2 linked regions of the Homo sapiens genome follow. The protein of the gene in region 2 interacts with the protein of the main gene of each other region in a pairwise test. Each region holds a gene or a part of one and is shown on either strand. Other genes may lie near its edges.

Region 1 (7,024 bases), on a different chromosome or scaffold from region 2:
CCTGGATTTTCCACTGTTTGAGTCACTAAAGGACCAGATAACAAAGGCCACTCTTGGATAAAATGCCCACATGTTCCCCTGGGGTTAAGATCACAGGAACACTGCCCATTGGGTTCACTAGCATAAATGAGAAATATAAAATTAGAGATGGTCAGAGTTGGAATGATTCTTGGAGAGGTGCTCCAGTGTCCTTGCTTTATAGGTGATTAAGGCCCAGAAAGGGCAAATGACTTATCTACAGCCACACAAGTTGACTTGGAACTGAAAAACTGAAATGACTCCAGAACTTTCTGACTGTAAAGCACTTCTTGGAGACATCAGTTCTCCATAAACTTCTTCAGATGTAGTGACCTTTGCCAGCCCTATGCAGTCTGAAAAGACTGTGTCCTATCAGGAGAAGCACCACACAGGTGAGTAAAGGCCTTCCTGCTTTTACTGTCTAAGGCACAGAACCTTTGGAAACCAATCTGAATTTTTTTTCGACCATCAAGTATTATTTATTATAATTACAGTGATAATGATAATAATGATAAAGGGAGAATTATTCCTGGCCAACTATAATTCTAGTTAAAATAGCATGCTGCACTTTCAGCCTTTCCCTCTTAAAAGAAAACAGGCTCTGGCCGACTGTTCCCAGCTCACCTGTAATCTCTTCTCTTACTCACCAGTGCTACCTCACAGACTTTCTTCCTCTACTCGGGAACATCATGCATTGAGTTTCCAGGGCAAACAATCTGGTTCCTCTAGACTTTCCTTATATGATCTATTTCTAGGATCAGAAAGCAAACAAATTATTCAACACTTCTCAACTGTTAAGGCAAGTTTTCTTGATGACAGATCCCAGGGCAGAATAGAATGGGTTCTAGAACAGGGCTTCTGGGATGCTGGTGCCCAATATACTAGGGATAGGTTGGGGATGGGAGGGCAGGTCGTGTTTCATTCCATGGGGTGGAAGGTTCAATTGCACCACACTCCTGGCCTGTCTCCTTCCCATGGTGGGTTTGTAAAGAGAACTTGACCTGTAAAGCCCAGTTCTTGGCTTCTGTCTTTCTCTGGGAAGCAAGCTGCCTGCAAGAAGCATGGCTTCTGCTCTCTGCCCTCCTTGCAGTAAGTTTTCTGGAGGCAAGTCCCCATGGGGAGTCATGCAGGAGTCCCTGGGCCACCTGGTAATGTGTGGTTAACAGTAAAGATAATCGCTAATCTTGAGTGAGAACTCACCACATGCCAGTAACTAAATGCTTTCCATATGTTAATTCATTTAATCTTCACAACAATCCTGTGAGGAAGTACCATTATTGTCCCACTTTACAAAGGAGGGAACTGAGTCTCAGAGGGATTAAATAACTCGCGCCAGATCTCCCAGTTAGTGAGGGTTGGAGCTGGGATTTAAACCCACACAATCTGGCTCTAGAGCCCCAAATCTATCTAATTCTGAGATTTAGATGTCAATATCCATTTTTATTAAACAATAAATGTGGGATTTTGGACTCCCACCTGCCCTGCACTTTTGTAGTATTCCTTTATTGGCTCAAAACTCATGCATGGAAGTAAGGTGTCATTTATTGGGCCTCCTCAAGACACAACAGGCATTGAGTGACACCCCAGGGGTTGCCCCTGAAAGCATCAGCCTCTATAAGTTGGAGATGGAATGGCACAGTGGCTAAGAGCCCAGGCTCTGAGGTCAGATAACCTAAGTTCAAGTCTGGGCCTGCTACCTAACACTTAGGTAATCTTGGTCACATACTTACCCTCATTTTGCCACAGGTTCTCCATGTGAAAAATGGAGAAAAACCATAATTGAAGAACCCATCTCTTAATTAATTGAGGATTAAATGAGTTAATGCAGGCTAAAGGCTTAAGACCAGCACATGGTTGAGTGCTCAGTAAACATAGACTACTCTTATTACTGCCTACAAGCAGCTATGCAGTCTCTTAAAAGTGGCAACATCATAAACATTTTTCCAGCTTAATTTGTGCCTATGACCAGTCAAGATATTAGCTACAGCAATGTGTTTGAGTACTTCATGCCTGGTCTAAATGCATCCATCCATCTCAGCATGAGGATGTGTGTGTGAATGCTCCCCTCATGGGCAGGGGACTGCTTGTCCTTTAGGGCAATTCTAGTTATCTACATCAAATATAAAATGTACATTTGGTTGTGAAAATCTGAGTGTATCATAGAGCCAGGAAGGAGACTACAAAAGAGGGATCACACTTGGCTGGGAAACTTGGCACCTTGCCCAGTGATTGGCTTTAAAGGCTCACTGAGACCAACTTGCTGAGCAAGGGCTTCGTTTTTCCCATCTGCATGTGCCTCAGTCATGCCAGGTGGAGAGTTCTTAAGCTTCTTCTCTCTCATCTCCTGCAATTCCCAAAGCAGGGGCAACCTAGATCCCTGCTTCTTTTGGAGGGATGAGAAGTGAAGGGCCAGTTGCAGGACCTTGTGATGAAAAGGTATCTGGTCCTCTCCTCACCCTTGGTAACATGGGATCCCAGAATTGCTCCACAGGGCCCTGCCCTGCACCATCAGCTCAGCTGGCCAGGGCTTCCAGCAGTGGACCCTGACAACAATGAGGTTCCTGGGCTCCTCCTGTCTCTGGTGCTAGGTGGAGTCACCTTTCTGTAAATTCCATGTTATTCCAGACCCACCCTAACCTAGAGCTTGGAGAAGGAAGGGCCCACCGTATTTAGCAGCTGGATTAACCCAGACTTCAGGTTAAACTTCCCTCCATCAGCATGGTCTCAGTGTTTCTTGGCTCTGCTAGGAGAGGTTATTTCTGGTTGGGCCTCCAGTTCACAGCCCTGAATCGGAGTCAAAACTGCATCATTGATATACAGCCACCTCCAGCTTAACCTCCAGCTCCTTCCCTAGGAAATCCGTTCTCCCTTCCTCCACTGTCCTCCAAGCTCCTTGGGCTGATAGCTGGGCCTTGCAGTTTCTCATCGCAACCTTCTGCTTAGCTCTCTCCTCTATTTGCTGTTGGGAGTTGGGGGAGCTTGCCACCTTCCCACTTAACTCCAGATCCAGTGCCTTCTCACTTGCTGATGGTGGCTGGAGCTCCAGCTATGGGTCTTTTCCCCTCACCTTTTCCCCTCACCTCTTTCCCTCAACTCCTGTCCCCACCTCTCTGTCATTACAGGGCCCCACCCGTTCCCAGCTCAGAGCTGGGTCTCTACTTCAGCCACATTTCTCTGGTGTTTGCCTTTCTTCCTGCCAGGTATTACTATCATACCCATATCCATCTGTGCTTTGCCCAGTAGTCCAACCTCACCCTTAGCCCTGCTCTTCTTCACTCCTGGGGCCAGCTAGTGCCCTCCACCAACACCTGGACCTGTGGACACCTCTTTCCCAGACAGACGGCAGCAGCCTCTTAGTCCTCTGAATAGATGACTTTATTCCTTGTATTCTGGTACACAGAAATCTCTTGAATTAGGCTTATTTTAAGAATAGAGTTTAGATAAGTTTCCCAAGCTATAATTCATCATGAACCTTATTTTCCCAAGTCTAGAAGATTCTCAATACTAGTACTTTCTTGATCTTATCAGAGGGTGTCCATGGAAGGTCATGACCATCACCCAGCTGAGTGCAGTAGAAGGAAGCTTTCTAATGTAAGTTGCATCACAGTTTCAGAGATGTGAGAGAAATTCAGAAATGTGAGGGAAATTGTGAAATGTAAAACGTGAGGGAGAAAAGCATTCAGAATGGAAAAATAAGACAAAGAGTCCCTTCCCATCTAACTCACAACCCTGCCATCCCCAACCTATTCCTTTTCCCAGGCTCTTTCTTTCTTCCGTGCTGTCTATCGACATGGACCCAGCCACACCGGCTGGTTTTTGCTGCTTTCTGTATGACCTGGTCTCTTGCCCCTTCCCAAGGTCCTCATCATCCAGGCAGAACCAACTTCTTCCTTGTGCCAGGGCTGTTACACCAGGAGAAAAAAAAGTATGACATTCTTCAGGGTAGATCTTCTTACTACTGTGGAATTATTGTCAAGTCTTTAAATTTATTTCGCCAAATGTGCTCACTTTCTGAACCCTTAACATGGCAGAAACATCTTCTCTCTTCTCGAGGAAAACCTGTAAGAAAAAATCAGAAAGATTATTATAATTACAGAATTACAATAATCTCTGGGGTGGGGGAAGGAGAATTAAGTATGATTGTTTTCGAGGAAGAAAAGAAAGAAAAACACCTGCCCGTTTACTTACAAGAGGGAGGAGAGCTAGAACTGAAAGGAAAATGGAGTGGAGGAAGCAACAGGGCTTGTGACGACCCCTAACCTGGTGTTCTTCCTCTCCACGACCCGACCCTCACAGAATTCTTTTTTTTCTTTTTTTTTTTCTTTTTTTTTTTGAGACAGGGTCTCGCTCTGTTGCCCAGGCTGGAGTGCAGTGTCTCCAGCTCAGCTCACTGCAACCTCCACCTCCCAGGTTCAACCAATCCTCCCACCTTGGCCTCTCTAGTTGCTGGGACTACAGGCATGCGCCACCATGCCTGGCTAATTTTTGTATTTTTAGTAGAGATGGGGTTTCACCATATTGACTAGGCTGGTCTCAAACTCCTGACCCCAGTGATCCACCGCCTCAGCCTCCCAAAGTGCTGGGATTATAGGCATGAGGCTCTGCACCCGGCCTCCCTCACAGAATTCTTTCCGAGTGCTTGTGAAACTTCTGAGGCAAGTGACTTGGTAGAGGGTGGAGGTTCCTATTTTGGTTTACACAAGCAGGGGTGAGCCAACACTCAGAGTGTGGAAAGCACAGGAGTGTGGGGAGAGAGAAGCACACAGAAAGGAGCTGCTAGGAACCGGCTGAACTGTGGTGGGAGTGAGGAGGCTCTGCCCTCTCAGAGGCTATGGAGTGGTGTTCAAGACAATTCACAAGGAAGCCTGGTGCCTCAGCTAACACTGGGTGGCATTCTGCTGAAGAGGAGCTGACACGTACTTTTCCATTTTCATTCAATCTTCAAGTTTAAACAATCACCATCAGAACTTTCAGAAGTGTATTATATACTCCAGAACACCAGAAATATAGTATAAAAGCTGCTATTTTTAAAATACCCCAGAGATATAGGACCAAAAATGGGAACTACTTTCAGCCTTTCCAGATGGATGGCTTTCTTTCCTGATATAAAGGTTTTAAAGAGAAAAGGATGGCTCCATCTCCTTGAGTAACCTACAGCTTGTAACTTTCACAGTCTGAACACTCATCCTTATTTCTAACTAGAATGTTTCCAGGTGCAAATGTAATATATTTTCTCTGGCTGTGACCCAAAAGACAGTGAAATAGAGTCAGCTGATTTTCCCTGTATGGTAACCCTCCCTATTTTTTTCTCTCTTTTTTTTAAACAGAGATAGGAGTCTCACTATGTTGTCCACACTGGACTTGAACTCCTGGGTTTAAGTGATCCTCCTGCCTCAGACTCTGAGTAGCTGGGACTACAGGCATATCCTGTTTTTGAATCATGTCATCCCTCTTTTAGTTAATTCAGATCAGTCACAAAAGTGTTCCAACTTTATGCCATAGGCATGGCTTTTCCAACATGGAGGACGTCAGTGCTATAAACCTTACACAGCCAATCCTTGTTATTTGCAGATGCCATATTTGCAAATTCACCTACTCGCTAAGGTTTGTCTCCTCAAAATTAGTACTTGAGGTGTTTTTGCAGTCATTTGTGGGCATACACAGAGCTGTGAAAAATCTGAGTCACCCCACATGCCTGTTCCCAGCTCAGGTCAAACAAGGCAACACTCAGCCTTCTTGTTTCAGCTTTGATACTGTAAAGAATGTCCTTTTCATGACGTCTTTAGTGCCATGTTTTTCTCATTTCTGTGCTTTTTATTGGTGACCTCCAAGCATAGTGCTGAAATGCTGTCTAGCATTCTAGGAGGCTGTGGTGTGCCTCATGGAGGAAATACGTGTGTCAGATAAGCTTTGTTCACACACAAGTTATAGTCAGTTGGCTGTGAGTTCAATGTTATTGAATCATCAATCAATAAACAATAATTTAATGAATCAATATTAAATAAGGTGTCTTTAAGCAGAAACATCATAAAATAAGGCTCTGTATTGATTGGTTGATGAAAATGTGACCAGAGACTCATAGGACTCTAACTCTGTAGTTCCCCTAGGAGCAATGGTTCAGTATTTACTAATACAGTGTTCTCAGCGTTATTATAAAACATAACTACCAAGAATAATGAGTATTGACTATACTTCATTTTCTCTGTATTCTTAAATATTACAGCTTGAAACAATGCTCTATTAAGAATGTGGGCTGGGCGTGGTGGCTCACACCTGCAGTCCCAGCATTTTGGGAGGCCAAGGCGGGTGGATCACTTGAGCCCAGGAGTTCAAGACCAGCTTGGGCACCATGGTGAAACCCTATCTCTACCAAAAATACAAAGATTAGCCAGGTATGGTGGTTTGTGCCTATAGTCCTAGCTGTAAGAGTTAAAAAGAAAGAGGAAAGAAACATGAAAAATGGCTCAATAAAGACAGGTTTATTTTGGAGAATAAACCTGAGAGGGGCTTCTGGCTGATTTCTGTCAGGAGTACTCTCTCTTACAGACTAAGTGTATTTAAGGGTTCAGGGTGAGAGAGCCTATCACAGGCTTGGAATGTTTCTGTGTGGAGGAGAAGTTCATTGTGGGTTTGGAATGTCTCTGGTTGGAGGGGAGGTTATCTTGGGGCTGGCTTGTCTCTGGTCAGGGAGAGAGTTTATCTTACGGTTGGAATGTTTCTGGTTGGAGATGTCATTTGTGGTTTATGGTCATACTGACATTAGCCATTAGGCTGATGCCCTTTGGGTTGGATTTAGGCAGTTTTTGATCAAGGGGCACTTTAAAATGGTGGTGCTTGTCCAAGATGGTGATGCTCCTGCTCTGTCACTAGCTACTTGGGAGGCTGAGGTGGGAGGATCACTTGAGCTACGGAGGTTGGGGCTGCAGTGAGCCAAAATTGCGCCACTGCATTCCAGCCTGAGTGACACAGTAAGACCATCTCAAAAAGAAGAAAAAAAAAAGAATGT
Region 2 (8,016 bases):
AACATATTGCTTAGACCTTCATATATTTGTGACAATATTTTTGAAATAAGATAATGATTTACACGAAATTCAGAAGGTTACCTTGAAATGAGAGGCAGGAGTTTAGAAGCAAGAAGGAGCACATAAGTACATATGTTGGTCCATTTCTCCAGTTGAGCAAGGGTTTCAGGGATATTGGTTATATTCTTTAAGGACTTAAAATTATACATTAAGTTTGCTATTTTTAAAAAGCGTACAATGCATCATTTTAGAAAGTGATTCCCCCCTTCATTTATCTTTTTCTATTTTGGAATTTATCAGGTGTTCTTAATGTGTCCAACTAGTATGTAAATGTGGAGGGAACTCAGAGACAGAGTGGTAGTAGGGTGAACCAAGTACATAGTGGAAGCATTTTATCTACCCTTTGTGAGCCCATGACAGAAAAGTCCATACTGGGTTCTCAGTTTGTCAGAATGTGCCCACTTACTAAAAGCCTGAACTTAATATGTAAGTTGGGGGGCCTAGAGGAAGGTATGGGTTGTGCAGCATTAAGGTGTAAAGTATGGAGGCTGATAAAAAAAATTTCTTCAAATCTTAAATTTGTTGAAACTCATCTTTAGGAAATTTCATGAAGAGACTTTGCGTGTGTGTGTGTGTGTTTGTGTGTGTGTGTTTTAAATGTCTTTTTATTTTCTCTGAATAAAATTTAACATCCGGGGATGAGGAAGAGTTAGGATAGAGTGCTGAAGTTGCAGAGTGTAGAAGGAACATGGACTTTGGAGGTATCTAGACAGAAGTAGCTTGGAGTAACAGATCTGCTACTCGCTAATTGTGTGATTCTGGGCCAGTTACGTGGCTGAACTTTGGTTTCATTGTGTATAAAGAGAAGGTATCAATCTCTGTTTTGCAGTGCTTTTGTGAAGACTTGACATGGTATTTTTTTTTTTTTTTTTTTTTTTTTTTGAGACAGAGTCTTACACTGTTGCCCAGGCTGGAGTGCAGTGGCGCGATCTTGGCTTACTGCAACCTCCGCCTCCCGGGTTCACGCCATTCTCCTGCCTCAGCCTCCTGAGTAGCTGGGATTACAGGCACCCACCACCATGCCCAGCTAATTTTTTTGTATTTTTAGTAGAGACGGGGTTTCACCGTGTTAGCCAGGATGGTCTCAATCTCCTGACCTCGTGATCTACCTGCCTCGGCCTCCCAAAGTGCTGGGATTACAGGCGTGAGCCACCGCACCCAGCCCTTTACATGGCATTTGTAAAGCACCTAACAGAAAATAGAAATTTAATAAATGATAGCTATTTTAGGTAATTTTTCCACAATATATAACAGAGACATTGAGCCTGTCAAGTTAACCTTTGTCTTATAGTAGCAGCCGAGTACAAATATCCTTTAAGAGGAATGTAACTTCTGACTTTGAAGTGTGACTCTTATTTGCTTTGAATCCATCATAATGTGGAAAATACAGACTGTTTAAGCAGCTAGAACGTAGTATTTTTTGGATCTTCATTTTGGATTTGAACTTCACACAGGCCTATTCTTTTAGGGCCACAGACTGAACTCCCACCCGCCTCACAACCATCTTACAAATAGGTGCCATTACTCACAAATGGGATCAAATGAGAAAATAGTTCAATACAGCTCATACAGTAATTACTCTGTATGTGAGAAAAAAAATCAAGGTTTGAATATCTTACTGATGGCTTAACTTTAACTTCATATTCAAAGCTAAGATGTTTACTTAGTAAAGACCAAAATGTAAAAACGGTACTAAGCAATATCTAAAATCTTTTTTTTTTTTCTTTGAGACGGAGTTTCACAGGCTGGAGTGCAGTGGTGCAATCTCACCTCACTGCAACCCCCGCCTCCCAGGTTCAAGCGATTCTCCTGCCTCAGCCTCCAGAGTAGCAGATTACAGGCATGTGCCACCACGCCCAGCTAATTTTGTATTTTTAGTAAAGATGGCGTTTCTCCATGTTGGTCAGGCTGGTCTTGAACTCCCGACTTCAGGTGACCCGCCTGCCTCAGCCTCCCACAGTACTGGGATGACAGGCATGAGCCACCGTGCCCGGCCGTAGAATTGTTTTTATAAGTTTCTACAAATAGCACTGTTTTCATAGTAACTTCTTTGCCTGTGAACAATGGATAACTGTTCGTGCTGAAGACTCAATGGTGTTTACCTAAAGAACAGCGTAGAAGTACAGTTTTTCTTGCCCACCCCCGGGTCTTATTTCTGAAATGGCTGCCAACACCTCAAACTGGTAGATCTGGGAAATTCAAGGATACCAATACAGGCATGTTTTTCTTTCCTTGCCAAAAACTTTAGTTGTTTTGGGCTTGCCTCTCTGTGTCCTCTACCTGGAGAGAGGCAGGGTGGGATGGATCTTCCGAAGGAATGTTAATCAAGTTTCTTGCTCACTAACCTTGATGTTCCTGTTGTGTTGGTATGTTGCAATCAATCTAGATCTGTTCAAGTTAGTAAATGCTTACTGGGGTGAAGAGATTGTTGTGGTTTGTGACAAGGCCAAATTCAGGTTTTGGACCCCAGACAATCACATGGCATTCGGATTTATTCATGTATTCCTTGTTCTGTTTTAAGAACATATCAGTGATCTAGAGTTTTGATATCACACATACAGATAGCTAGGGCTGTTTGGAGTTGTGGTTCCAGGAATGTCCCATGTAATTTGAAGGTTTTAATGACTACTTACTATGTTTTGAAGTATTGCATGATATAAAGTGAATCTATAAACTGTCCCCTTATTAATATATAATATGGGAATATTTTTGGCTAGAAAGGAATTGAACTGAATTAAATGAGAATGTGTTAAATGAAGGCTTGTGTTCAGTATTTGGATATGAAAATTCTGTTTCCTGGAAAAGGTGTTTCTGTCTTACTGCTGCGTGCCTAGTGCCTGGATCACTACCTGGCATGTGGAGCACCTCTTAGTGAATATCTGTTGAATGAATGAATGAATGAATGGCTCTGAGTCTAGATGTAGGGTAATGATGAGAGAGAATGAGATAGAAATAAAACCAGGAGTATTTTGCTTTCCTTAGTAACTTACTGATTTTCCCCAATTATAAATAAGCCTATATATATGCCTTCTTACATTGTACCAGTATACCCTCCTTCTTTTTTTTATTTTGAGACAGGGTAGAGTGCAGTGGTATGATCTCGGCTCACTGCAGCCTCTGCCTCCTGGCCTCACGTGATTCTTCCACCTCAGTCTCCCAAGTAGCTAGGACCACATGTGCGCGCAACCATACCTTGCTAATTTTTGTTTTTGTAGAGATGGAGTTTTGCCATGTTGCCCAGGCTGGTTTCAAACTCCTGAGCTCAAGCCATTCACCTGCCTCAGCCTCCCAAAGTGCTGGGATTACAGGCACATGCCACCACATCTGACTAATTTTTGTATTTTTAGTAGAGATGAGGTTTCACCATGTTGGCCAGGCTGGTCTCGAACTCCTGACCTCAGGTGATTTGCCCGCCTTGGCCTCCCAAAGTGCTGGTATTATAGGCATGAGCCACCGCGCCCAGCCATCCGCCCTGTCTTCGTAACAATATGAAAATGCCAGTTTCTCTACAGAATTTGATTATTAGCATTTTTTTCTTTCAGTTCAGTCTCAAATTATGATGAAGCATTTGAGATTTTAACAATATTCAAGGAGAATTTTTTTAGTTTTCAGAAATTAGGTAAATCAAGATGTCCCTCTGATAACAATCCCTAGAAAGGAATAGTCTCAGGTCATATTTCTTGAATTTGTATGTTCCTCCTTAAAATTGGAACCCTTCAATACAAAAACAAACAAACACTTTCTTTCAATTGTCCAAAACATTTTCAAAGAAAATTCTTATTCTTCTCTTTGTAATTTATGTAGTTCATAAAGCAAGTACCTGCCCTTTTGCTACCAAGGTATAAATGCCTCATTGGATAATATAGGGCCGTGTGTGTGTGTGTGTGTGTGTGTGTGTGTGTGTGTGTGTGTGTGTATTAAGAAAATATAATTGTCTTCAGTATCTTATCGAATGGGAGGATTTTAAAAATATAACATGGTTTAATCTGCTTAGAAACATATTTCATGCTTAAGGCTGGGCATGGTGGCTCACGCCTGTAATCCCAGCACTTTGGGAGGCTGAGGTGGGAGGATCATGAGGTCAGAAGTTCAAGACCAGCCTGGCCAAGATGGTGAAACCCCGTCTCTACTAAAAATACAAAAATTAGCTGGGCGTGGTGGTGGGTGCCTGTAATCCCAGCTACTCGGGAGGCTGAGGCAGAGAATTGCTTGGACCTGGGAGCTGAGATCACGCCACTGCACTCCAGCCTGGGCTACAGAGCAAGACTCTGTCTCAAAAAAGAAAAAAGAAAAAAAAAGAAACGTATTTTATGCTTAATACAGAAACTTGATAAATACAACAAAATCAAAAAGGGGGGAAATTGCCATTAATTGGGAAAGATTTTACTTTTTTAACTTGAAGTTTTTTTTTTGCATTTCTGCCTAACCTAAAAGGTCAGGTTTTTGTACCTTGGAGAAGGAAATTATAAATGCCCAAGAATAAGATATTTAAATTGAAAATCTACTTTAGCTTTTCTTTTTATCTTTTTGTTTTTTTTCCCTCTGAGAACCTCAATTTTTTATGCTTTAGCTTTTCTTAAAACATAACATTTAGCATAGTAAAGAATTTTAATAGCTATGTAGATAAGAATGAAAGAGGTGAATTATATGCTTGTTAAATTAATCTAACTGCCTCTTTTACCATCTTTACTATAGATTATTATCCGGTATTAATTGTCATCCTTTTATTCAGTCCTTGATCCCAAAGTAAGAAGAATTGATGAGGATATGTGCATTGTGTTATGTCTGATCACAGTTTGACTAGCACAGTCTGGAAGTGGGTTGTACAGGATGAGAGAGAGAAGCCTAATTGCTCTCCCAGCATCAGCAGCATCTATAAAGCATCCTGGGAATTGCTTGCCCTACGTTCAGAGCAGCTGGTCACATGAGCCTGAATTTTCAGTTCAGTTCATTAGTCAGCCATTTTGGTCAACACCCTGCTTACTGCGCACGGCCAATCCTATGAGAACTCAGCATCCCAGCTCATCTGAGCAGATCCTGGAAGTGATTTCTGCAGCTCAGGATTTTTTTTTTAAGCTACATTGAAAATATAGGTTTATTTTTTGTTCAGGTTTTTCTTTTATATTTTTTTTCTGCACAAAGGAGGAGGATTTTTCACTTACTCATATCGAGGCCAGATTTTTAAAGCCAGCTAAGGCAGCATCAGCTGTGCGGGATTTAAAGCCTATAGCTCAGCTGAAAAAAAAGGTGGGGGGCAGGGAAGGGAAGATAAAAGGAGAGGAAGCTGGGAGAAGACAAGCATCATCTTATTTTGCTATGTGGTAGGAACTGTCTATAAGATAGTGTAGAATTGTTTATCTTGAGCAGTTTGTTCTTAACCTATAAGGTATTTTTCCTTTTTTTTTTTTTTAAACCTCCCCCACCCTTTTCCTGAAAGCTTTGTTTCAGAGCTTTGTATTGGGTTTTTTTGGTGAGGAGGTTGTATTTATTTTTTTGGTGTGTGTGTGTGAGTGTGTGTGTGTCTGTGTGTGTGTTGTGGTCCCAGCTGAGTCATCATGTCTGCTCTGACGCCTCCGACCGATATGCCAACCCCCACCACTGACAAGATCACACAGGCTGCCATGGAGACCATCTACCTTTGCAAATTCCGAGTGTCCATGGATGGAGAATGGCTCTGCCTGCGAGAGCTGGATGACATCTCACTTACACCTGACCCAGAGCCTACCCATGAAGGTATGGTCAGATCCTGTCCGCTAGTATTTCACCAGCATCCTCATTGTTATGGGGGAGGGCTGGGAGGATCAGGGAGAGGTAGAAAGAACCTACACTCTCAACTGTTAACAGTCCTGAAAACCTTGCATCCTTACTTACCACCCAGCTCCCCTTCTCTTGCTCATGGGGGAAAGATAATTTTTTTTCTTGCCCCTTTAGGTATCCTTTCAAAAGATGCTGGATACTCGTTTAGAGTTCTTTGTCTTTAAGCCTCTAAATAAAACATTTGAGGTCACTTATCACATCTGATTCTATTCAATAATGAGAAAGCTATTAATTTTGTTCATATATGAAAATGTTATAGAAATTGTAGTGATTTATAACACTAAGTTAAGACAACATGACTATAATTATAGGATTGTACATGATGAATACAGTAGAAACACCAGGGTATTTGGTAATGGTATCCTCACCATTATATGAGGATACAATTTTAAGCAAGTTATGACATCTAGGAAATGTTTGATAAAACATTTTTTTAACAATATGGATTATTAGGTTAGATGAGAAAATAACTTTTCAGCATTTATTTATTGAATATGGACTCCTAAGAAAGCATAATGCCTGGAAAGGTTAAATATGATTAATATGGCATCCCTATAGATTACAATAGAATGGTAATATTGGAATCTATTGGCCATTGCTTTTTATAAATTATTTGTGGTAACTATTATGATCCATTTGAGATTTCCACTGTCAGTACCTCTGAGATCTTTGTGGTCTCTTGACTTGCGACTTTTTTCCAGGACTCTTGCTAATTTATGAGAGGTTTTCTGCTTCTACCCTTTAATTCTCTTAATACCACAGAAAGAGAGCTGATTTGAATCATAGCTACAAATCGTTTTGTTTTTAATACAGTTGCTTCTTAGCTAAGGTTTATTCTCTGTCCTTATACTGATGAAAAAAAACAAAAAACGCTTGCATATGAGGAGAAATTCTTTATAAACATCTGCCTGATAGTTAGGCACATCGACAGGACAAAGAAGACCATAGGTGAATTGTACCTAGCAGATGGGGTTAGGAAAGGTGATTCTCTGCCTTTGACCTTGAGTTGAAATCTTATCATGACTCAGAATTTTCCCATTGTGTTTGATAAGCATTTTATCTTCCCAGTCAGCCTTAGCCTTGAGAAAGTTTTAGGGATGGTTAATAACACAGAACACAAAGCAGTCATTTTGGGTGTGTCTTTAAGAACAATGTTTAAGTGGTTTTTAAGACCCTTTGCATCTTTTAACAATTGGTTTGTTAATTAGACAGCTTTCTTTGGCTGTATGTTTCGTTATGTGCACAAGTTATAAGACATCAGCTGAAATTCCATGCAATGCCAGTACTATTTATTTTTTATTATTATTTTATTCTATATTTTCATCAAAACATCGTTACATCCAACAATTCCAGTACTACTTAAAACAGCCTCCAAAGCTTTAAAAGTCTTTAGGGAAGAAAAATACAGTTTTAGAAGGCTACCAAGAAGTCTTCTGGCAACTGCCTCAGTTTACATATTTTGTTTGAAAAAAATGTATTCCCGTCCAATTTGAGAGTTATACAATATGAAATATTCCCTTTATCATGAAATCTAGTTTACCAGTGTCTCAAAAATAATTTTTAACAATTTTAACACCTCAAATATATGTTTTTGGAGCAGGATTCCTATGGATAAGCAAAAGTGAGCTGTTTGGTTCATGTAAGCGTTTTTAGCAGCGCCATTTGAATTCTTCATAGAGAAATCTGTAGCAACACATTTCTCAGTATGGAAAATGTGTGAGAGCTATAATCTAAGTAATAAATTGTATGTCTGCTGATTAAAGAAATCAGATAAATACAGAGTTTCCAAGACCTGTAATCAACTATAGAGGATTTGGAAGAAAATAGAGAAATGCCGACAGTGCATTTTAGAATTTTGCCTTAAATTGGGCAAGAAAGCTATTATTTTAAATTACTAGAAATGAAAATAAAGAAAGCATAGTCCCATGAAAGCCTGTGAGTATTACTGCCTTGCTCCATTACCAAACTCTGGATATTTAAACAGTCATTTGGTCCCAAGAAATACCCACTTTTATGTTAATACCACTGATAGTTATTAGATTTAATTTAGCTATAAGCATTTAAGTGGTGGTCACCAGGCCCATGATTATGTGAATCTCACCTTGTTCACAAAATGGAACTCCTGATGTCTGGACGCGG

The links. Proteins that work in one complex are often made in the same cells at the same time.
Region 1: the proteins of RUFY3 (region 2) and CAPN3 interact in binary tests that used the Homo sapiens proteins (3 or more experiments, as listed by UniProt).

What each region holds. Positions count from the first base shown.
Region 1 is NC_000015.10:42,362,501-42,369,524, forward strand, and holds part of CAPN3 (calpain-3), read left to right. Parts: intron 1-7,024. UniProt on the Homo sapiens protein: Calcium-regulated non-lysosomal thiol-protease. Proteolytically cleaves CTBP1 at 'His-409'. Mediates, with UTP25, the proteasome-independent degradation of p53/TP53.
Region 2 is NC_000004.12:70,716,959-70,724,974, forward strand, and holds the start of RUFY3 (protein RUFY3), read left to right. Parts: upstream 1-5,005; 5' UTR 5,006-5,615; coding exon 5,616-5,793; intron 5,794-8,016. UniProt on the Homo sapiens protein: ARL8 effector that promotes the coupling of endolysosomes to dynein-dynactin for retrograde transport along microtubules. Acts by binding both GTP-bound ARL8 and dynein-dynactin.